Regions from separate parts of the Homo sapiens genome. Here all the other regions are linked to region 1. The links come from fine-mapping of genetic effects on gene expression. A gene starts in region 1. Each other region holds a variant in brackets. All regions are shown on one strand. Distances are from middle to middle.

Region 1 (8,300 bases):
ACAGCAGTGGTGCAATCTCGGCTCACTGCACCCTCCGCCTCCCAGGTTCCAGCGATTCTGTGTGCCTCAGCCTCTGGAGTAGCTGGGATTATGGGCATGTGCCACTGTGCACGGCTAATGTTTGTATTTTTAGTAGGGTTTTGCCAGTTGGCTAGGCTGGTCTCAAACTTCTGACCTCAAGTGATCCACCCGCCTCAGCCTCCCAAAGTACTGGGGTGACAGGCATGAGCCACCGCGCCATGCCAAAATCCAGCCTTCTCATTTGTAAAATAACAAATCATAGACACAGCTAGTCCACAGTGGCCTCTGACAGTCTCCAGTTGTTAACGGTGAATGGTGTCCAGGTTTTTGGCGTCCTGAACAAAGAACTGGACAAAACGCACAAACAAAGCAAGGAAGGAATGAAGGGATTTATTGAAAACGAACATACACTAAACAGTGTGGGAGCGGGCCCAAGCATATGGGTTCAAAAGCCCTGTTACAGAATTTTTGGGAGTTTAAATTCCCCCTAGAGGATTCCCCTTCCACTGGTTACTTCTGGTACACCCTATGTAAATGGAGAGGATGAAGAAAAGTTACAAAGTCATTTATGGCCTACCGGAGAGGATGTTTCCTGTTATAGCTGAAGTGAATTGGCCTTATGTTCCCTGCCTCCCTATTTTCCTGCCTTACAGTTGCTGGACTGACACATTTTTTATTTTATTTATTTTGTTTTGAGATAAGGTCTTGCTCTGTCGCCCAGGCTGAAGTGCAGTGGTGAGATCTTGGCTTACTGTAGCCTTGACCTTTTGGGCTCAAGAGATCCTCCCATCTCAGCCTCCCAAGTAGTTGGGACTAGGGATGCCCACTGCCACACCTGGCTAATTTTTTGTATTTTTAGTAGAGACGGGGTTTCGTCAAGTTGCCTAGGCTAGTCTCCAATTCCTGGGCTCAAGCGATCTGCCCACCTTGCCCTTCCAAAGTGTTGGGATTACGGGTGTGAACCACCGCACCAGGCCTGGGCTGACACTTTAAACGTGCCATTGCAATCAGTGTATAATGGTCCCGTGGCAGAGGGAGAATGGTGCCCAAGTCAGTACTTCTTGGCTGGGACCCAAGAAGACAAACCTCTAGGGCCGGCGTGGTGGCTCACGCCTGTAATCCCAGCACTTTGGTTGGCTGAGGTGGGCAGATCATCTGAGGTCAGGAGTTCAAGACCAGCCTGGCCAACATGGTGAAACCTTGTCTCTAATAAAAACACAAAAATTAGCTAGGGGTGGCCCGCGCCTGTAATCCCAGTTACCTGGAGGCTGAGGCAGGAGAATTGCTTGTACCCTGGAGGCGGAGATAGTGCCACTGCACTCCAGCCTGGGCAGCAGAGTGAGACTCCGTCTCTAAAAAAAAAAAAGAAAAACTTATTAAAAAAAAATTGCAAGCAAAAAGCACAGAAGGCAGAAGGTGCAAATAAGCAGAGGCTCCATGGTCTGAAGGAGGCCAGTGCTGGGACCATGAATGAAGGGGGCTGGGGGCCAAGATTCCTGTATCCTGAGGGAGTCCAGGGTGGTACTGCTCCCCAAGTCCCATGGGTGGGGCTATTGGTCTCTGGGGATCCACTGCTTGTATTTCTCCTAATCTGCTTGGCATTAACCTCCTGCCAGGCTTTCAACACCCTTGGGGCAGTTTTCCCAGGTCCTGAGGCTGGGCAGCTGAGTCCAGTAAAAAACAGGGGCCCTGGAGAGGGACTGTGGGCAATGCCCCCGAGTCCCCGGGGCCTGGGAAGAACAGAGGCTGCCAAGTGCAGGGGGTGGTGGGGAGGGGAAGACCCTGGAGTAACAATCCCTGCTGTGTCCACTTGGTTCCCACGGACTCAAGCCAAGCCAAAGCACTGCCCGGACCAGTTCGGCTTCCAACCAATCCTGGTGCTGGCCTCAGACTCCTCCTTTCTTTCTCAGAACCCCATTCCCCTCAGGGCCCCCAGAGTCCAGGCCCCTAGATTCTTCTTCCCCTAGAACTCAGGAGTCTGGGACCCCCCAGTCCCTTCTCCTCAGGACCTAGAAGGTTGGATCCCCAGCCCCCTTTCTCCCTTAGAACCTGAAATCACAGCCCTTGATCAGTATTTTGCGCCCCCTAGTGGAGAGAAGAGTGGGTCTGTCCTGTGACTTACATACAGCAGGAATGGCAGAATTTTTTACTTATTATGATTTTTAATTTCTTTAGAGACAGGGTCTCACTCTGTCACCCAGGCTGGAGTGCAGTAATGTGATCACAGCTAATTGCAACCTCGAACGAACTCCTGGGCTCCGGCATCCCTCCCACCTCAGCCTCAGAGTAGCTGGACCACAGGTGGATGCCACCACACCACCTAATTTTGTTAATTTTTAGTAGAGCTAGGATCTCGCTATGTCACCAAGGCTGGTCTTAAACTCCTAGGCTCAAGCGATCCTTCTGCCTCAGCCTCCCAGAGTGCTAGGATTACAGGCATGAGCCACGAAGCCTGGACGGAATGGCAGAATTTATTTGGTCACTCCACAGAGCATAGGAAGGCTCTGCAGGGAACCTGCCTCCACAGGAGCCCTGTCCAAGGTCACACTTCTCATGAGAAGCTTAGACCTCATCATGCTCCAACACATTGGCCCTTGCAGTGTATGAGACTTGGAGAGCAGATTGCAGCAGTTTGTATTTATAGCTGAGAGCGCAGTTGGGGTTGCAGTGAGGCTGGAGAAAGTTTCAAAGCCCCTCACTTGCCTGGGCTTTCCATGGTCCTCTACCTAAATTTGTACAAGTCATTTTGTACTTTTTTTTTTTCAAGACAGAGTCTCCCTTTTCTTGCCCAGGCTGGAGTGCGATGGCATGATCTCGGCTCACCACAACCTCCGCTTCCCAGGTTCAAGCGATTCTCCTGCCTTGGCCTCCCAAGTAGCTGGGATTACAGGCATGTACCACCATGCCCAGCTAATTTTGTACTTTTAGTAGAGATGGGGTTTCTCCATTTTGGTCAGGCTGGTCTCGAACTCCCGACCTCAGGTGATCCACCAGCCTCTGCCTCCCAAAGTGCTGGGATTACAGTGTGAGCCACCACACCCAGCCAATTTTGTACTTTTTAAAAGAGGCCAGGCCAGGCGCGGTGGCTCATGCCTGTACTCCCAGCACTTTGGGAGACAGAGGCAGGCGGATCACGAGGTCAGGAGATCAAGACCATCCTGGCTAACACGGTGAAACCCCGTCTCTACTAAAAATACAAAAAATTAGCTGGGCGTGGTGGTGGGCGCCTGTAGTCCCAGCTACTCCGGAGGCTGAGACAGGAGAATGGTGTGAACCCAGGAGGCGGAGCTTGCATTGAGCTGAGATCATGCCACTGCACTCCAGCCTGGGTGACAGAGCAAGACTCCATCTCAAAAAAAAAAAAAAAAAGAGGCCCACAAAACACATAAGCTTCAGACCCCACAAAGTCTCTCCTCAATCCCTGTCTTAGTCTATTCACTTCATCCCTGGACTTAAAAGACTGGGCCTACACATTCAAAGAATCGTTATTAACACCATTATTGTCTGTAACAGTGAGGATGAGGCACTGAGTTTTCTTTTTCTTTTCTTTCTTCTTTTTTGGAGGTGGAGTCTTGCTCTGTTGCCCAGGCCGGAATTCAGTGGCATGATCTTGGCTCACTGCAACCTCTGCCTCCCGGGTTCAAGCAATTCTCCTGCCTCAGCCTCCCGAGTAGCTGGAGTTACAGACGTCCGCCACCATGCCCGGCTAATTTTTGTATTTTTAGTAGAGACGGGGTTTCACAATGTTGGCCAGGCTGGTCTTGAACTCCCGACCTCAGGTGATCCGCCTGCCTCGGCCTCCCAAAGTGCTGGGATTACAGGCGTGAGCCACCGCGCCTGGCTGAGGAGCGAAGTTTTCTAAGGTTCCTTCTTGTCCTGTGTTAGCCCTCAGAGAGGTAAGTCACTCACCTTCTGCACCTAGAGAGCCTCATCCCCAGGGCAATCATCCCCAGGGCAGTGCTGGAGATACAGCAGTGACCACAACAGTCCCAGGTCAGCCTGCCCAGTTGGGGAGACACACCCATCCCTGACAGTGATGACACAAAGTGAGCAGGGATGGGGTGGAGGAGCTGAGGGGGCAAGGGAGGATAGGAAAAGGGCTCAGAGAGAGTTTCCTAGAGCGAGAGCTACTGTTACAGGGCTGAGACCTAGAGGAAAGTGGAGGAAACCGATAATAAAATGATAATTATATATTCAGAATATCCCAATGCAAAGCTTACTCTTTTTCCAGGTAATATATAAGGTTCATAATCACAGCGCTCCAAATATTGACCACTTAAGCATGAGGCCCAGGGCCTGATGTTTTCCATTCGCCATCTAACTACGTCTTCCCAATAACACAGCGGGGCAAAACGGGAAGACGAAGAACGAGTACGATTATATCCCTGGTTTATAAAAGGGGAGAAACTGAGGCTCAAACATAGATGTCACTTGTCACCAGCCTGGCCAACACGGTGAAACTCCGTCTCTACTTACAAAAAAAAAAAAAAAATGGGAGGCTGACGCAGGAGAATTGCTTGAATCCGGGAGGCAGAGGTTGCAGTGAGCCGAGATCGCGCCACTGCACTCCAGCCTGGGTGACAGAGCGAGACTCCGTCTCAAAAAAAAAAAAAAAATTAGCCAGGAGTGGTGGCGTGCTCCTGTAATCCCAGCTACTCGGGAGGCCGAGGATGCAGTGAGCCGAGGTTGCAGTGAGCCGAGATCGCGCCATTGCACTCCAGCCTGGGGGAGAGTGAGGCTCCGTCTAAAAAAGAAAAAAAAAGAGAGAGAGAGACGTCACTTGTCCAGGATATCTTATCCAGTCAGTAGCACCACAAGGGTTAGAACCCTGGCCAGACATCCACCCAATTTCACGGGTGAACAGTTAACAGCCTCTGAGAGTCTTGTCCTCTCTGGGCCTCCGTAACACCCTCTCCAAACTAAGGGTCTCTCAGCAGATGGCCGGGTTTAGAGCTGTACGAAGACACACAGCTAATGAAAAATTGTGGAATTCTCAGAGCCCGTGAAGCCTAGCCCACGGATGCGAGGTTTGGACCACTGAGGGAACGCGCATGCGTGCTAGGCAGGGCAGTCCGAAGGCTTGGGGGTGTATCATAGGGTCTCATCGGAGGTTTGTTGGCCGTAAGACCCCTGGAATTGGAACTCTAAAAACACAGAAAGGATATGAGCTCAGGAGACTTGAACGAAAGAGTTGTCTTAGGAAGAGGGGTCAGAAGACAAGGGTGCTGGGCAAAAGGCTAGTTCTTCGAATCAGAATACGGTGGCCAGAAAGGTTCCTCTGACGAAAGAGGGGCGTGGTTCGAAGCCGTACAGTGGCCGGTAAAGCTCAAGAAACATGGAACGAAAAGGACGCGAAGAATCGGCAGGGAGAAGCGGACAGGATGTCCCGAAAGGCTCATATAACCGAAAAGGCGGGTTAATGTGAAGGGACGGAAGGGACAGAACTTGCGGGAGGCACATGCTGGCCGAGAAAGTCCTGGAGTTCGGAGCATACAGTGTTTTTATTAGGTGGAAACAAACGGGCTGGGAGAAAGACGAGTACGGTGGCCAGGTTGGTCCTTCCATAGCCGGAAGTGGCCTTCCTGAGAGGCGTGGCTGCGGCACTCTTGCCGGATAGGGTGGCCCGGCGGGGCTAGGAAAGCGTGAAATCTCGCGCGATTGCGCTGCGAAGTCGGGGACGGGGCGGGGCTGGCGGCGGGGGCGGGGACCCGGAGCGGGAAGATGGCGGCGGCGCAGGAGGCGGACGGGGCCCGCAGCGCCGTGGTGGCGGCCGGGGGAGGCAGCTCCGGTCAGGTACGGAGGCCGAGAGGGGACTGAGGGGGTTCTTCCCCAGCCGGGGGGCCTCCCACGGGGCGTGTCCTACCTCTTGTCACGGAATCCCGTGCACTGGGGGCTCCTTGGCCAGAGGGACCTTGAATACCCGGCCCAGGCAGGGCCGGACCGCCCGGGAGGCCGGACGGTGCCGGGAACAGGGCCCTGTTGCGGGTCGGTTCCCCTGCACGCTCGAGCCGGGCGGCCACCAGGCTCATTGCTCGATCCGGGGAGACAGTGGCTCGGAGGGGCGCAGGCTTGTACCTTGGCGCGCTGGGTTCTCAACTCCGCGATTCCATGCTCTGAGGCCGTTCCTAGAGTGGTCTGGCGTTCAGGTCTCGTTGTAGTGTTTGAGGTGTGCGCAGTGATTAATTGGGAGTTTTCTAGCTGTGGGGAAGTCAGTATTAGCAGGGCACGGCCGACAGACCCATTTTACAGACGGGAATTCAAGGAACAGTGAGACTAAGGCGCTTCTAGAAGGTCATCCTGGTTAGGTTTGTAACTTTATGTAGAAGTTACAAGACACTGCTGACACAGGGACTGGTATGGTTGTGGTTTTAATGTAAAATAGTTCTATGGGTTAATTAGTCCTGGTGCGGATGACTTCTGCCCCACTGCTGTCTTAACACACTGCAGAGCATACCATTTCAGGCAGCTACCGTTCAGGCATTTGGGGAATAGATGGAGAGACATGAAGGTGCTGTCGACCCACCCACTGGGATGTCACTGACATGTGGGAGGCAGCTCAGGGGAAAGGAGTGCGGGTTGAGAGGGGAGAATGAAGCTGACTCTCTGTGTGACCTTGGGCAAGTTCCTTTCCCTCTTTAGGCCTTTATCTCTCCCGTGTTAAATGCAGAGGTTGGACAGGAGGGCCAGCCATATCCCTGCTGTCAGGGGACGAAGAGAGGAGACTGACATGTAAACAGTTGTAATCCTGAATGATTAGGTTGGTGACAAAAGTCTGTGTCAGGGACTGGGGGAGCCCAGAGAAAGAGCAAGTGGTATCACTTGGGTAGGACACATGGATGAAATTTGTGTGATAGAGCCCACTGTATCTGCTCTGAATCTTTTCAGCATTCTCAGCCAGGGCCTGGCTTCAGGGACAGCTTAGGAAATGTTTGTTGAGTTAGTGCTGGAATGAAGGCTCAGTTCCTGTCTTCAAGGGTTTCCCAGTCTTGCTGAAAGGAGGTCGTTTCCCCTCTGGGTTTCTGTTGATTATTGGGTTGATGGTGGCTTGAGAGACCAGGGCCCAGGTTGTTCTCATTGCCCTGAGCTTCCAGATGGCACTCTGATCTTCTCTTGTACCAACTCTGCTTAAAAACAATCAAGAGTTACCCCTTTGCCTTTAGGACAAAGTACAAATTCTTTAATAAATCACAGTCTTGCACGATCCGACACTTTTCTTCAGACTAGACTAGGATTTCTCGAGCTCGGCACTATCAACATTTTGAATTGGATAATGCTTTGTTTGGGGGGCTGCCCTGTGCATTTTAGGATGTTTAGCAGCATCCGTGGCCTCTACGCACTAGATGTCAGTAGGATCCACGCCCCTCCCCAGTTGTGACAACCATATATGTCTCCAGACATTGCCAAATGTTCCAAGAGCAGGGGGGCAAAGCCATCCCTGCGTGAGAACAACTGCGCTAAAGGGGATCCGCTGCTCTGAACCTATTTTATTTCTAAACCTCTTTTATTGCCTCTCAGTCTCTTTCCTCATAGTCTATGCACAGGTCTCTCCCCTCTTTAGCTAGTTGATGTGTATTAGTCCTACAGATTTCAGATGTCCCTTCCTGCAGAAAGCCCTCTTTGACTGTCTGGGCTCCGCTGTCCCAGCCCTGCCCTACTGGGTTTCACTGTCTGGGGACTGGGAACCCCAGGAGGGCAGAGCCAGGACTGCCTTGATCACCACTGCTTCCTTAGCACCACTCAGCTCAGCGCCAGGCACAGAGGAGGTGCTCAGTGTTTGTGGAATGAGCGGATCTTGAAACAGAGGCTGGGCTGAGGTGGAATTCCCTGATGCCGTGGTGGATCCAGGTAATCAGTGAAGACATGCCGCAAAACCTAGCTTCCTCCTGCTCTTGCCTAGCCCTGGTGGTCTCAGCTACTTCTTGGACCCTTTAGCAGATGTTGCTGGGGATTGTGTGTGTGCGTGGACGTGCAGATCCGAGAGCAGGAACTGTGTCTTAGTCACTGATGTGTCCACAGCCACTGCCACCCTTCTCCCATGCCCAGGGCCTAGTGCACAGCAGGCACACCCTCTGCACAGTCTGCTGCTTTAGCTAGCCTGCTCCTGTAGCCAGGAACTCGGACACAGAACCCACAGCTTTGCCATTCCTTCCTTCAGCGAATGCGAATTGAGTCTACTCCATGCTAGGCCTTTGCTGATGCTGGAGATACAGCTGTGAATAAAATAGGTGCTGCCCTCTTGAAGGCCCTTACACTTATGTTCTAGTTGGAGCTGAATTTAT
Region 2 (11,180 bases), 22 kb after region 1:
TATTTTCCTACAGAGAGGATTGCCTTTGCTTCTGCCTGGGGGCATTACCAAGTCCTAGGTTTCCTTGCACCAGGTTCAGGGCTTGAGCTGCCCTTCGTGACTCCTTATCCCACGAGTGGCCTTGCATACTTCGCCCTGCATACCTGTTGTGCAACTCCTGGGAATGGGTAGGCCACCTGGTTCCTTCCTTCTCAGGGGTGGAGGCTTGCACCTTGTGGGGTCTTAGTTTCCTATAGGGTAGGTCTCTGGTTACCTCATATGTTGTATGTGCCCTGGGCTAGCATTTTTTTTTTTTTTTTTGAGACAGGGTCTCACTCTGTTGCCCAGGCTGGAGTGCAGTGGCATGATCGTGGTTCACTGCAGCCTCGACCTCCTGGGCTCAGGTGATTCTCCCACCTCAGCCTCCTGAGTAGCTGGGAATATAGGCATGGTGCGTGCTGCCATGCCTGGCTAATTTTTGTATTTTTTGTAGAAACTGTGTGTTGCCCAGGCTGGTCTCAAACTCCTGGGCTCAAGCAATCCACCTACCTCAGCCTCCCAGCGTGCTGGGGTTACAGGTGTGAGCCACCGCGCCCAGCCTAGGCCAGCATTTTTGTCACCCACCAAAACACCTAGCAGATGTCCTCGGACACATGAAGAAGCTTATAGGGCTCCTTTACTTATTCTTTTTTTTTTTTTCCCCTAGACCTGCAAATCCAAGATCCTTTACTTCTTTTTTTTTTTTTCCTTGAGATGGACTTTTTGCTCTTGTTGCCCAGGCTGGAGTGCCATGGCACGATCTCGGTTCACTGCAACCTCCTTCTCCTGGGTTCAAGCGATTCTCCTGCCCCAGCTTCCCGAATAGCTGGGATTACAGGCATGCACCACCACTCCTGGCTAATTTTTGTATTTTTAGTAGAGATGGGGTTTCACCATGTTGGCCAGGCTGGTCTTGAACTCCTGACCTCAGGTGATCCACCCACCTCGGCCTCCCAAAGTGCTGGGATTACAGGCTTGAGCCACCGCGCCCGGCCGATCCTTTACTACTTTAGGATTCCCACTTTCCCTTCAGTTTTTGCCTGAAGGTTTGGTAACCTACAGTCGTGTCCATTCTTCAGAGCTGTCTATTTATATATATTCATATGTAAACTTGATAAAAATTACATGCATGAGAACAAATACGAGAATACGTGAGCAGCATATATTCTCATTCTATCAATATGTATAATTACAAATATAAAATATATTGATATTTTCTTAGTGTATTAATTTTATCAAGCTTTTCCAATTTTTTCCAGTGAGAGGGTTGGTCTGAATAATTAAGCCCACTGTTACTAAAATTGGAACTAACGTATCACTTACTATCTGCTTCTCCAAAAATTCTCCAAAAGTTCAGAAATGTTGCTCTTTCTAAGCTTCTGTGCCTTCGGTTCTTTTCCTTTTCTTTTTTAAAAAATTTAATTAATTAATTGATTAATTTTTTTGGGACAAGCTCTCTATCTCCCAGGCTGGAGTGCAGTGGCGCAATCACGTCTCACTGCAGCCTTGACCGTCAGGGCTCAAGTGACTCTCTCACCTCAGTCCCCCAAGTAGCTGGGACTACAGGCATGGGCCACCATGCCCAGCTAATTTTTATATTTTTTGTAGAGACGGGATTTCATCATGTTGCCCAGGCTGGTCTCAAACTTTTGAGCTCAAGCAATCCGCCTGCCTCAGCTTCCCAAAGTGCTGGGATTACAAGCATGAGCTGCTACACCTGACCCAATTATACTTTTTTTTTTTTTTTTTTTTTTGAGATGGAGTCTCACTCTGTTGCAAGGCTGGAGGGCAGTGGCGCAATCTCGGCTCACTGCAACCTACGCCTCCCGGGTTCAAGTGATTCTCCTGCCTCAGCCTCCCAAGTAGATGGGACTAGAGGCACGCACCACCAGGCCCAGTTAATTTTTGTATTTTTAGTAGAGACAGGGTTTCACCATGTTGGCCACGATGATCTCGATTTCTTGACCTCGTGATTTGCCCACTTCAGCCTCCCAAAGTTACAGGCATGAGCCACTGTGCCTGGCCTCTATACTTCTTAAGTTATTTTAAAATGTGTAATTAAATTACTATTGACTAGAGTTGCCGTGTTTTGCTACCAAATACTAGATCTCATTCATTCTTTTTTTTTTTGAGATGGAGTCTCGCTCTGTTGCCCAGGCTGGAGTGCAGTGGCGCGATCTTGGCTCACTGCAACCTCTGCCTCCTGGGTTCACACCATTCTCCTGCCTCAGCCTCCGGAGTAGCTGGGACTACAGGCGCCCGCCACCATGCCCAGCTAATTTTTTTGTATTTTTTAGTAGAGACAGGGTTTCACCATGTTAGCCAGGATGGTCTCAATCTCCTGACCTCGTGATCCGCCCGCCTTGGCCTCCCAAAGTGCTGGGATTACAGGCATGAGCCGCCGCGCCCGTCCTCGTTCATTCTATTTTTTGTAGCCATTAACCATCCCCGGTTCTGTGCTTTTGAAGCGCTAGGATTCCAGATTCTTTCTTTTAAAAATTTTATGTTTATTATTTTTTCTTTATTTCTTTTTTCTTTTAATTCATCCATCTGCACACTGAAGGGGTTCCAGATTCTTAGTCTCCTCTCGGGGGATCCCAGGGGGCTGGATGGCAGGTTTCCCAGTCTGAGTCAAGAGTCAGCCCCTGCAGCCCTGTGGTCACCAGGAGCTCCTGCAGGATTTAGAGTCAAGGGTCTGCATGCAGACCAGGGCAGTGCCAGCTACCCCCACACACTGGCAAACGGTGGCATCTGGGCTCCCTCCCCAGATGTGGTCTTTAGGGACATCTTATCTCCTTGCCAGCCCTGTGACTACCTTCTCAGGGCCTCCCTGACTTGGTCACTAGCCCCAGGTCAGGCGCCAGCATGTGCTAAGTCAGAAGGAAGTCAGGCGGGTCTATGGCGGAGAGCCAAGGCTTGGGGACTCACCACCTTGCTGCTTCTCTCCTCAGGATCTTCATCATCTGGGCCATCAGCAGTTGGTTCCGCCGAGGGCCGGCCCCTCAGGACCAGGCGGGCCCCGGAGGAGCTCCACGCGTCGCCAGCCGCAACCTGTTCCCCAAAGACACTTTAATGGTAACTGCCGGGTGGTAGGGCAGACTTGGGAGGTGATGGGGTGTGGAGGGGTGGAATGTGGAGGAGTGATGTCAGCAGTCGGGACAGACCAGGTCCTTGCTCACTGGCAGGTCTAGGAAAACAGGTCCAGGGTTGAGGAACTCTGGGCCCATCCCCAACACGTGAGACCTCTGTCACCTGGGTCCATCCCCAGCACATAAAACCTGTGTCACCCAAAAGAAAAAGCAAATTCATTTGGTTAAAATAGGTTAAATCAGGGTCTTTGGATGTTATATTTCAAAAGTATGTTCAGCCTTTCAGGGTTGCAGAGGGAGATGTGCAAGGGAGAGAGTGTGAGAGGTGGGGAGGGCAGGGAGCCAGCAGAGGCTGACAGGAGGTGGGCCCGGAAGGAGAGGAGACCTGCACTTCCACAGTGGGCTTGGGCACAGGCAGGGCAGGGCTTCAGGAGCCTCCAGAGCAAAAGCATTTAGATCTGTCAGTCTAGGCTTTTCTGAGCAAACATGGCCATTGGGGCTTGAGAAAGGAGGAAGTTCTTGTTGGGTCACAGTGGGTTTTTTTTTTTTTTTTTTTTGAGATGGAGTCTCACTCTGTCGCCCAGGCTAGAGTGCAGTGGCATAATCTTAGCTCACTGCAACCTCTGCCTCCCGGGCTCCAGTGATCCTCCTGCCTCAGCCTCACGACTAGCTGGGATTACAGGCATGTGCCACCACGTCCAGCTAATTTTTTGTATTTTTAGTAGAGATGGGGTTTTACCTTTTTGGTACGCTGGTCTCGAACTCCTGACCTCAAGTGGTCTACCCGCCTTGGCCTCCCAACGTGCTGGGATCACAGGCATGAGCCACCGTGCCCGGTGGCTCACAGTGCTTTTGTAGCTCTGGACTGCTTCGTCCATAAGCCTGCAGAGCTCTGACCAGGAAGGCCCAGCAGCCATGAGGGCAGGAGATCATTCAGGGAGCTCCTGCCCCTTCCTACCCCTAAATTCTAATTGGCAGGCTGGCCAGTCTCCAAGTGTTCTTTGTTCGTTGACTTCACAGGCTCAGACCAGGACAAACATGGTGGTATGAGAAAAGAGAAAATATGTCCTCTCTGCTGCTCTTCCTCTCTCCTCTCCCCTGTCCTCCATAATTACTGTTCCCCTGAGTGTGCTGACCGCTGCCATAGCTCTTTAGCCAGCCTGCAGAGGCTCTGAAGAGCAGGCCTGAGCTCTGTTCCCTTCCTGTCCCAACAGAACCTGCATGTGTACATCTCAGAGCACGAGCACTTTACAGACTTCAACGCCACGTCGGCACTCTTCTGGGAACAGCACGATCTTGTGTATGGCGACTGGACTAGCGGCGAGAACTCAGACGGCTGCTACGAGCACTTTGCTGAGCTCGATATCCCACAGGTGGGGGCAGCTCTCGGTTTCTGGCCCCATGGCTGCTTGACTGGCACTGAAGGACCTTTTCCTCCAGTCCGCTCCTTGCTGAGAGCATGTGGAGTTTGGGCTCCAGGCTTGGCCCTTCCCTGGGCTCACATGGTCTGTGACCACAAGCCAGTCCCTGAGATCTCTGGGCTTCACTTTCCCCTACCTGAAAAAGGTAGATAGGGGTGGAATTGGCCTGGGACCCTCCCAGCTACCTCTAAGGTTGTGCAGTCCTCCACTTTAAACTGGTGAAAGATTAGTAATTGTCCTTGGGGATGTTTGCCTATCACCAGTTTATCAGGCAGCCCCGTTTCAAAATAATATTAGTTAATGTTGATTGAGCTAAGTGCAGGGTACTAAGCTAGGCTGACTCATGGAAATTTCCCGGCAACCCTGTGAAGCAGGAACTGTTATTATTCTCATTTAACATGTGAGGAAACTGAGAGAGAAGGAAAGTGATTTACCCAAGGCCACATCGCATGAGAGATTCAGACTCAGGCTCTACGGCTGTGGACTCTCGCAGCCCTAGGCTCAAATCCAACCTCCTCCAGGAAGCCCTCCCTGACTCACAGAGCACTCAGGCTTGGTTAAGCACCCTCTCTGGGTTCTCACACCTGCTGGGCTTCCCCATCCCAGCCCATTCTGGGGCCTCATTGGGACTCCTGTATGGGACTGTGAGCCTTGTGATAATAAGGCTGGGGCTGCCTAGATCACTTCCATGTCCCCAGCACTGCCCAACGTGGGGCTGGGTGCAGAATCAGCAAGTATTGAACAAGTAAAAGGGACATCTCTCTTTGGGGCCTTCTTCGGCTGAGTCCAAGACAGCTGCCCTCATTCCTTTCTCCCCAGCAGGCCTTCTCAGCTTTGGGGTGGAGGGCACATTTCTGTTCTATTTCTGTCTGGGTAGCTAGAAGCAGAATGTGGACACAGTCATTCTGGTTTTTTTTTTTGTTTTTTGTTTTTTTTTGAGACAGCGTCTCGCTCTGTCACCCAGTCTGGAGGGCAGTGGCGCAACCTTGGCTCACTGCAACTTCACCTCCCAGGTTCAAGCGATTCTCATGTGCCAGCCTCCTGAGTAGCTGGGACTAAGGCACACATGATCACACCCAGCTAATTTTTTTATTTTTTAGTAGAGACAAGGTTTCACTATGTTGGCCAGGTTGGCCTTGAACTCCTGACCTCAAGTGATCCACCTACCTTGGTCTCCCAAAGTGCTGGGATTACAGGCGTGAGACACCGCGTCCAGCCATCATTCTTTTCTTTTTGAGATGGGGTCTTGCTCTGTTGCCTAGGCTGAAGTGCAGTGGTGCAATTACAGCTCACTGCAGCCTCAACCTCCTGGGCTCAAGCAATCTTTTCACCTCAGCCTCCCAAGTAGCTGGGACAACAGGCATGCACCACCATGCCCAGCTAATTTTTTGTAGAGATGGGGTCTCAACATGTTTCCCAGGCTGGTCTCAAACTCCTCTGCTCAAGCGATCCTCTCACCTCAGCCTCTCAAAGTGCTGGAATTACAGGCATGAACCACCCCACCTGGCTGGACTTTCTGACCTGCACTGAGAGGTGACTCCCACAGAGACCTCAAGCCCAGCCCCCAGGCCTTGCCACGAGATCCAAGGAAGGACCAGGGCCTGGCAGGCCCAGCAGGGGGATCTGCTTCCAAGGGCTTGGATCTAAGTCGAAGCTTCAGGGTGGGGTCCAAGTGGACTTAAAAGGCAGGAGAGCTGGGCACAGTGGCATGTGCCTGTAGGCACAGCTACTCAGGAGGCTGAGGTGGGAGAATGGCCAGAGCCCAGGAGTTTAAGACTGTAGTGTGCCATGATCGCAACTGCAAATAGCCAGTGCACTCCAGCCTGGGCAACACAGGAAGACCCCATCTCTAAAAAAGATAGGGAGAGTGAGGAGAACACAATGTGGCCAACTGAATTCGAGCTCTGCACAAGGATCAGAGAGGTTCAGTGCTCGCCTTTGTCTCCACCCAGTGCCCCTG[G/A]ACAACTTGCCTCCCTTCTTGAAGCCTCAGTTTCCTCATCTGGATCAAGTGAGAATAGTCCCCCTTCCCTGGGAGGCAAGGAGACTTGATGAGATAATGAGGAAGACTTGGGCAGAGAGGGGCCAGCTGGAGGTAGCAGGGAGTAGCACCCAGGAGCCCACAGACTGGGTTTCCATCTGCGTACTTGCCACACACTATGTGACCCCTTGGCATGAGCCCCGTTTGCCTCATCTGCAAAATGGGGTGGTAACATGACCCATTGCATAAGGTTGACATGTTATATGTGTGTTAACTCGTTAGATTAGGAAGCTGTTGTCTGAAGTGCCCAGGGCAGGGTCTGGCCCATAGTAGGAGCTCCATGTCGGTCAGCTGCTTCTTCCTGTTGAGTGAGCTTAACGAGAGCTCGTTGACTGAGCTGTGTGCCAGTGCTCCAGGTAGTCCCTGCAGTGGTGCCCTCGGGTCAGTGCTGTGGGAACTTCGCATCCTCTAGGTGGGGCCCTGAGGCTCAGAGAGAAGCTGAGCTCACACGGCCATGGCAGGTAGAGCGGGCGTCTGAGTCTGTCTGACTCCAGCATTTACCTCTCTGCCACCCAGCTACATGCCCCACCCTGAGTACTCAGTAAATGGCCAGAGAGTTGAGGGGGAGGAAACTGCTGCAGATGGGTGCCAGGCAGGGCTTTAACGTTTCCCTCACCCCAGTTGCCCAGCCTGCCCACCTGACCTTCCGTCTTTTGCAGAGCGTCCAGCAGAACGGCTCCATCTACATCCACGTTTACTTCACCAAGAGTGGCTTCCACCCAGACCCCCGGCAGAAGGCCCTGTACCGCCGGCTTGCCACAGTCCACATGTCCCGGAGTAAGTCGCTCCCCTGCAGCCAGGACCCACTGTCCAGGAGGCCAGCATCCTGGGAGCCCCCAGGCTAATGTGGCGGACAAATCCCAAGTCCAGGAGGGCAGGCAGGAAGCCTGTGCTCAAAGAGGGTGGGATTGGCAGGGCAGGCTCAAGCCCCACCCAGCCTGAAAGAGCCCTGTGGACACTAAGCAGGGATACCCACGGAGGAAGGGAGACCCACGGAGGCTCAGGGACCAGAGAGAAATTGGCCAGAAAAAGCAGCTGGAGACAGGGACTCTTGGAGAGGAGGAGACGTCCTTCACCAAGGGGGAAGGGCCAGGGTTGACTTTTGCACAGTAGGGGCCTGATAGAAGTAGACACTCAAAAATAATTTGTGGGCTGGGTGCAGTGGTTCATGCCTGTAATCCTAGCACTTTGGGAGACAAGGTGGGCAGATTGCTTGAGCCCAGGAGTTTGAGACCAGCCTGGGAAACATGACAAAACCCTGTCTCTACCAAAAAAGACACAAAAACTAGCTGGGCGTGTGCCTGTAGTCCCAGCTGCTCAGGAGGCTGAGGTGGGAGGATCGCTTGAGCCCAGGAGGTGGAGGTTGCAGTGAGCCAGAATCACACCACTGCACTCCAGCCTGGGTGACAGACCGAGAACCTGTCTCAAAAAGATAGATAGAGGCCGGGCACAGTGGCTCACGCCTGTAATCCCAGGACTTTGGGAGGCCGAGGCGGGTGAATCACAAGGTCAAGAGATAGAGACCATCCTGGCCAACACGGTGAAACCCCGTCTCTACTAAAAATACAAAAATTAGCTGGGTGTAGTAGCATGCTCCTGTAGTCCCAGCTACTTGGGAGGCTGAGGCAGGAGAATCGCTTGAATCCAGGAGGCGGAGGTTGCATTGAGCTGAGATCACGCCATTGCACTCCAGCCTGGTGACACAGCAAGACTCCGTCTCCGTCTCAAAAAAAAAAAAAATAGATAAAATTCAAAGAACAGTGTGGGCAACATAATGAGACTTCGTTGCTACAAAAATTAATAGCCAGGTATGGTGGTGAGCACCTGTGGTTCCAGCTACATGGGAGGCTGAGGTGGGAGGATCGCTTGAACCTGGGAGGTCAAGGATGCAGTGAGCTGTGATTGCACTACAGCTTTCCAGCCTGGGCGACAGAGCAAGTCCACGTCTCTGAAAAAACAATAGTAATAAAAAATAAGACTACCACTTCTACTCCCATGATAACTCATTAATCCATTAAACCACTAATCCATGAATGGGTTAATCAGTTCCTGAGGGGAGGGTCCTCATGACCCAGTCACCTCTTAAAAGCCTCATCTCTCAGTACTGGCACATTGGGGATTAAGTTTCACTGGGAGTGGGGAGTACTAGAGTACATCAGTAGTCCCAGCTACTTGGGAGGCTGAGGTGGGAGAATCAGCATGAGTTTTGGCCAGGACAAACATTCAAACCATAGCATTGTCCGTCCTCTTGTTTTCGAGAAGTTAATAATTGTTGTCATCTTTCTGCTTGCCTGGCTCTTTTTTTTTTTTTTTTTGAGACAGGGTCTCACTATGTCGCCCAGGCTGGAGTGCAGTGGACTATCTCAGCTCACCACAATTTCCACCTCCCAAGTTCAAGCGATTCTCCCACCTTAGCCTCCAAAATAGCTGGGACTACAGGCACACGCCACTACGCCCGGCTAGTTTTTGTATTTTTAGTAGAGACGGGGTTTCGCCATGTTGGCCAGGCTGGTCTCAAACTCCTGACCTCAAGTGATCGTCTGCCTCGGCCTCCCAAAGTGCTGGGATTACAGGTGTGAGCTGCCACACCCAGCCTTGCTTGGTTCTCTGTGAGCTTTTTCCCTGAGTCCTCTGTCTCCTGATGGGCAGCCGTAGAAATCTCTTGCTGTACCTGTTTGAGCGGAGCTGGAGAATGGCTTCCTCAGAAAGCCCCCCATTCTTCTAACGGGAGTTCTGTGTACTCCACCTAGCTTTCACTTTATTGAGGACTATTCCAGACATTCCCTGTGGATTTGGTTAAGATCCATCTGGCTGGTTTTGGGTGGCGCAGCAACAGACAGAATTCTATTTGTATGAGTTAGGTCTTACCTACTTCTTTTAGTACAAAAATATCCTAAAGGATGGTAATTTTTTTTTATCACCTATACTGGATGAAATGAAAAGTTGACTCTATGTGGGTCCCTAGAAATGACTTGGAAAGGTCTTCTGGAGTTACTTGAGCCCCTTTCTGAGTGAGTGTGTCTGAAGAATGTGCTGCGTTGGTATGTCCCACCCGGCTGACGTCCATGTGGTGAGATCTTTGGAGAACCAGGCAGAAGTGGCTTGAGGGGGTGTGACCTACAGGGTTGGTCTCACAGATGTTTCCCTGCAGGGGGATACGTCAGGGGTCTGGGCTAAAATGCCCGATGTTTCAGAGGTCGCTCTGAAGGTGACCCAGGTGGGTGGCTCTTCACCCTATTCTTGTACCCCGTTTGACGATCACCTAATCATCCCGTTGACCCAAATCGATGCCAGTATTTTCTGCAGTTTTGTCTTTGGTGAGTGTGATCCATGTCACTGTGTGGTGAGGTTTATTCACAGTCAGTCTGGTCTGTAAAATAGAACCTGCAGACAGTGAACCTGAAAAGCATACTAGGATCATCCAGGCCTCCCTCCCCAGCCTTGGAGCTGGGACCCTCAAAGCAGGGACATAGAAGGACTTGGAGTGAGCCACCCACAAACTCCAGGGTGAAGGAGAGTGTGAGTTCAGAAAAGCCCCCTTTTGGCTGGTTGTGGTGGCTCATGCCTGGAAACCCAGCACTTTGGGAAGCCAAGGCAAGCAGATCACTTGAGGTCAGGACTTCGAGACCAGCCTGGCCAACATGGTGAAACCCTGTCTCTACTAAAAATACAAAACTTAGCTGGGCATGGTGGCACATGCCTGTAATCCCAGTTACTCGGGAAGCTGAGGTGGGAGAATCTTTTGGACCCCGGAGGCGGAGATTGCAGTGAGCCGAGATCGTGCCACTGTACTCTAGCCTGGGCGACAGAGCAAGACTCCATCTCAAAAAAAAAAAAAAAAAAAGAAAAGAAAAGCCCCTTTTATCCCCAAGAGGCCAATAATCAGTATTCTAGAGCAGCTCCGTCCCATGGAGATAGGATGTGAGCCAGAGAAGGCATTAAAATTTTTCCAATAGAAAAATACTAAAGAGTAAAAAGGTAAAGAGAGGCCAGGCACGGTGGCTCATGCCTGTAGTCCCAGCACTTTGGGAGGCCAAAGTCAGAGGATCGCTTGAGCCCAGGAGTTTGAGGCCAGCCCTGGCAACATAGGGAGACCTCATCTCTACAAAAAAAAATTTTATTTTATTTTATTTATTTTATTTCATTTTATTTATTTATTATTATTTTTTTTTGAGATGAAGTCTTGCTCTGTTGCCCAGGCTGGAGTGCAGTGGTGCAGTCTCGGCTCACTGCAAGCTCTGCCTCCCGGGTTCACGCCATTCTCCTGCCTCAGCCTCCTGAGTAGCTGGGACTACAGGCGCCCGCCACCACGCCCGGCTAATGGTTTTTTTGTATTTTTAGTAGAGACCAGGTTTCACCGTGTTAGCCAGGATGGTCTTGATCTCCTGACCTCGTGATCCACCCGCCTTGGCCTCCCAAAGCACTGGGATTACAGGCATGAGCCAGCGCGCCTGGCCTATTTTATTTTATTTTTTTTTGAGACAGAGTTTCACTCTTGTTGCCCAGGCTGGAGTACAGTGGCATGATCTTGGCTCGCCACAGCCTCCACCTCCCAGGTTCAAGCAATTCTGCCTCAGCCTCCCAAGTAGCTGGGATTACAGTCATGTGTCACCA
Region 3 (5,000 bases), 85 kb before region 1:
AACCCTGTCTCTACGAAAAATAAAAAATTAGCTGGGTGTGGTGGCCCGTGCCTATAATCCCAGATACTCAGGAGGCTGAGTCAGGAGAATCGCTTGAACCCAGGAGGCAGAGGTTGCAGTGAGCCGAGATTGTGCCACCACTGCACTCTAGTCTGGGTGACAGAGCAAGACTCGGTCTAAAAAAAAAAAAAGTATTGAGGTTGGGTGTGGTGGCTCACGACTATAATCCAAGCACTTTGGGAGGCTGAGGCAGGTAGATTGCTTGAGCCCATGGTGGTGCGCAGATGTGGTCCCAGCTACTTGGGAGGCTGAGGTGGGAGGATCGCTTGAGACCAGGAATTTGAGGCTGCGGTGAGCTGTGATCATGCCACTACACTCTAGCCTGGGTGACAGAGTGAGGCCCTATCTCTAATAAATAAATAAAAGAGTAAGTCAGGCAGTTAAAGGGGCCATGGAAGTTGGAGAGGGCCAAGTTGCAATTCTAGCTAAGGAGGTCTGGGGATATTTAGGCAGAAACTAGGAGAGGAGGAGCCCTCTGGGTATCTAAGGGAAGAGCGTTCCAGGCAGACGGAATGGCAAGTACAAAGGCCCTGAGACAGGAATACCTGGAGTATTTGAGGGCCAGGAAGGAAGTCAGGGTGGCTGGAGACATATGAGTGGGGGAAAGTAGGAAGCAATAAAGTCAAGGAGAGGATGGGGACAGATTGGCAAAAGCCTTGTGGACTATAAGAAGCCTTTGGCTTTTGCCCAGGGAGGATAAGAGCTGTAGTAGGTTCTTAGCAGCAGACAGGTTTGATCTGGCTTGGGTTCTCACCAGCTCCTCCTGGCTGTGTTGGGAGGGGAAAGAATGGGAGCTGAGAAACCACAGGGTAAGGCAACTACAAAGTCCGGGTGGGGCCGGGTGCTGTGGCTCACGCCCATAACCCCAGCACTCAGGGAGGCCGAGGTGGGAGGATCCCTTGAGCCTAGGAATTTGAGACCATCCTAGGCAACATAGTAAGACTCTTGTCTCAATGACAAAAAAAATTTTTTTTTTTTTTGAGACAGAGTTTTGCTCTTGTTACCCAGGCTGTAGTGGAGTGGCGCGATCTCGGCTCACTGCAACCTCCGCCTCCCAGGTTCAACCAATTCTCCTGCCTCAGCCTCCCAAGTAGCTGGGATTACAGGCTCCCACCACCACACCTAGCTAAATTTTTTTGTATTTTTAGTAGAGACGGGGTTGCACCATGTTGGCCAGGCTGGTCTTGAACTCCCGACCTCAGGTGATCCGTCCACCTGGGCCTCTCAAAGTGCTGGGATTATAGGCATGAGCCACTGAGCCTGGCCAGGAAAGAAAAAAAAATTGTTTTAATTAACCAGGCTCAGTGACTTACCTGTAATTTCAGCTACTCGAGAGACTGAGGTGGGAGGATCACCTGAGCCCAGGAGGTTGAGGCTGCAGTGAGCTGTGATTGTGCTACTGCACTCCATCCTGGACAAGAGAGCGAGACCCTGTCTTAAAACAAGTCCAGTCCGGGCAGGAAGTAAAACGGCTTAGAAGTAGGGGACATAGTGGCCTCATTGAGATAGGATGTGCAGGGAAGGCGTCTTAGTCAAGTCCTGGAGTCTGAGAAGGAGCTACCTTTGGGCATAGCAGAGGGGCACGGGCACAGAAACCTGGGAGGTGGGCATGAGATGGGAGCTGGGCGCGTTCCAGGAATGGAAAGGGGGCTGGTGAGGATAGGCAAGGGCTTGGGTGACCCTCAGCGGGGCCACATTACACGGGCTTCACAGGTGGAGGCGAGGAGGCTGGACTATGCCCTCAGCATGGTTAAGAGCCATGGGAGGTGTCAAGCCACAGGAGAGATCTGGACAAACGTTTGAGGTTGCAAAAAATGACCGGCAGCAGTATGAGGAGTGATTGGAGGAGTGGACGGAGGTAGAAGGGAGCTGGGACGAGAGGGGAGAAGAGGCATTGCTGGGAAGACGGATGAGGCAGTGGGGGGCAGAGGGAAGCGGGCGGCATATAGTGGTGTTTTTAGAAGATAGTAGGTGCTGGGCTTGCCCATGGATTGAGGGGGAAGCAGGATCAGAGAGGAGTCCCAGGCCTGGTGCGGTGGCTCACGCCTGTAATCCCAGCACTTTAGGAGGCCAAGGTGGGCAGATCGCTTTGAGGTCAGGAGTTTCAGACCACTCTGGGCAACATGGTGAGGCCCCATCTCTACAAGAAAAAAAAAAATTAGCTGGGCATGGTAGCACACACCTGTAGTCCCAGCTACCCAAGAGGCTGAGGTGGGAGGATCGCTTGGGCCTGGGAAGCAGAGATTGCAAGTGAGCCAAGATTGCACCACTGCACTCCAGCACGAGACCCTGTCTCAAAAAAAAAAAAAAAAAAATAGGACTCCCAGCGGGAAGGTGACTGATACTTGGCAAAAATAGAGAAGGCAGGGAAGATTTTTTTTGAAGGATGCTTTTTTTTCTTTTCCTTTTTCTTTTTTTTTTTTTTTCTTTTTTTGAGACAAAGTCTCACTACATTGTCCAGGCTAGACTCGAACTCCTGGGCTCAGGGGATCCTCCTACCTCCGCCTCCTGCATAGCTGGGATTACAGGCATGAGTCACCACATCCAGCTACGAATGCTCTTTCTTTAAATCTTGAGGCTGGGCGTGGTGGCTCACTCCTGTAATCCCAGCACTTTGGGAGGCCGAGGCGGGCGGATCACGAGGTCAGGAAATCGAGACCATCCTGGCTAACACGGTGAAACCCCATCTCTACTAAAAATACAAGAAATTAGCCAGGCGTGGTGGCGGGTGCCTTAGTCCCAGCTACTCGGGAGATTGAGGCAGGAGAATGGCTTGAACCCGGGAGGCGGAGCTTGCAGTGAGCCGAGATCGCGCCACTATACTCCAGCCTGGGCGACAGAGTGAGACTCTGTCTGGAAAAAAAAAAAAATATGTTGGAAGTCCCCTGGGAGCCCACCTTCCCTAGGCAACTTCCCAGAAGCCACGTCACTCTGGATGCCTTTTCTTCCCCCTTCTCAGCCCAGAGCGTCTGAGAAGGTCACCCTGTGCTATCCTTGAGTAAACACTTCCCTTTCC[A/G]GTAACACATGAAACCACAGCCGTTTTCCATAATACAAAGGACAGCTCTTCTCCTCCCCACCCTCACAAACGCCTCTCTTCTTGTGCAATCATTTGTTCTCATCCAGAGATAACTTCAGGGCTGGGCACGGTGGCTCACACCTGTAATCCCAGCACTTTGGGAGGCTGAGAGGCAACAAGAGCAAAACTCTGTCTCAAAATAAATAAATAAATAATGAGACTCAGAAAATATGATTAAGGGCCAGGCGCAGTGGCTCACGCCTGTAATCCCAGCACTTTGGGAGGCCGAGGCAGGCGGATCACGAGGTCAGGAGATTGAGACCATCCTGGCTAACACGGTGAAACCCTGTCTCTACTAAAAATACAAAAAAATTAGCCGGGCGTGGTGGCGGGTGCCTGTAGTCCCAGCTACTTGGGAGGCTGAGGCAGGAGAATGGCATGAACCCAGGAGGCGGAGCTTGCAGTGAGCCGAGATCGCATCACTGCACTCCAGCCTGGGCGACAGAGCGAGACTCCATCTCAAAAAAAAAAAAAAAAAGAAAAGAAAATATGATTAAGTGTAGGGTTTAATCAAGCCCAAAGCTTGAGGATGACCACCTGGGAGCATAGATTGAAGTTGCCCTGAATATACACTTCAAGCAGGGGCCAAGGCAAGCAGCTCTTGCAAGTGAGCTTTTGTTTGTTTGTTTGTTTCTTGGAGAGAGGGTCTCCAAAACTACAAATAAAAATTAGCTAGGAATGGTGGCGCACACCTGTAATCCCAGCTACTCAGGAGGCTAAGGCAGGCGAATTGCTGAAACCAGCAAGGGCAGGTTGCAGTAAGCTGAGATTGCACCACTGCACTGCATCCTGGGTGACAGCAAGACTCTGTCTCAAATTAATAAAAAAAAAAGAGAGAGAGAGAGATAACCTCAAGAGCTTCCGTATACACACTGGTGCAGAAGTAAGGAACAAAACAGCCAAAGCCTCTGTCTTCATGATGCGTGAGCCACCAAGGAATAGTTGGCCAGAGTCGGCGGTCAGGAAAGTGCCCTTGACGAAGTGGGGCTTGGAGTGGGGTCTGGAGAAGGAGGCCAAAGCAATCCAGGCACAAAATCACCAACCAAAACCCCAAAGTGGGTGGAGGCAGAGACTGAGGAGGGCGTGGATGGGGAGCATGTGGAGTGGCCAGGGGAGGTGGCCATGGGGAAGTGGTGGGCTCGGGCCCTGAGTCACTATTCTAACAGCTTGGAGGGCGGCCAGGAGGATGTGGGGAGGCTTGTTGGATGCTCCACGATGGTCAGGGGAGAAGGCGGTGGGAAGGGAGAGCTGGGAAGAAGAGGAGAGTCAGACCGTGTTGAGAAGTTCAGAGGTGGATACCCAGGTCCAGAAAGCAACAGAAGATGTGAGTCTGGGTGGGGGACACACATCATAAGCATGAGCTGCTATTCTTCCTGGAGTTTTGTTTTTGTGATTTTTTTCCATGTTTTCCAAGAGAATGAGGTGGAAAGGGTATAAAAAAAAGAAACGGCTTTGAGATTTTCTGCCTTTATCACACTTCCAGTCATTCAATCATCTAATGGTGATTACAGGAAAAGGAACAGGGGGCCTTTCCAGCTGGACCTTTGAACCACAGTACTCAGTTACTCGCTCGGCCTTGATTTGCTTTTTTTTTTTCCTTTTTTTTTTTTTTCTTTTGGAGACAGAGTCTCACTGTCACCCAGGCTGGAGTGCAGTGGCACGATCTCGGCTCACTACAACCTCTGCCTCCCAGGTTCAAGCAATTCTCTTACCTCAGCCTCCCGAGTACCTGGGATTACAGGCACCTGCCACCACGCCCAGCTAATTTTTGCATTTTTAGTAGAGATGGGGTTTCACCACGTTGGCCACGCTAGTCTAGAACTCCTGACCTCAGGTGATCTGCCCACCTGGGCCTCCCAAAGTG

Evidence for each region. PIP is the estimated chance that this variant, and not a neighbour inherited with it, causes the effect.
Region 2: its variant is the best candidate, but not a certain one, in a credible set for the expression of CLPTM1 in whole blood (TOPMed, PIP 0.85).
Region 3: its variant is the best candidate, but not a certain one, in a credible set for the expression of CLPTM1 in whole blood (TOPMed, PIP 0.66).

What each region holds. Positions count from the first base shown.
Region 1 is chr19:44,949,654-44,957,953 of GRCh38, forward strand. CLPTM1 (CLPTM1 regulator of GABA type A receptor forward trafficking) reads left to right here and starts at 5,727. Exons shown (of 14, transcript NM_001294.4): 1 at 5,727-5,814. The coding sequence starts at 5,743. RefSeq lists a silencer at 5,650-5,979.
Region 2 is chr19:44,970,118-44,981,297 of GRCh38, forward strand. CLPTM1 (CLPTM1 regulator of GABA type A receptor forward trafficking) reads left to right here. Exons shown (of 14, transcript NM_001294.4): 3 at 2,970-3,093; 4 at 4,322-4,480; 5 at 7,226-7,343. Among named protein-coding and RNA genes, the nearest start is that of CLPTM1, 20 kb to the left of the region's middle. The variant G/A (reference allele first, on the strand shown) is at 6,489.
Region 3 is chr19:44,865,996-44,870,995 of GRCh38, forward strand. The region is part of intron 2 of NECTIN2 (nectin cell adhesion molecule 2); the gene reads left to right. Among named protein-coding and RNA genes, the nearest start is that of NECTIN2, 22 kb to the left of the region's middle. The variant A/G (reference allele first, on the strand shown) is at 3,077.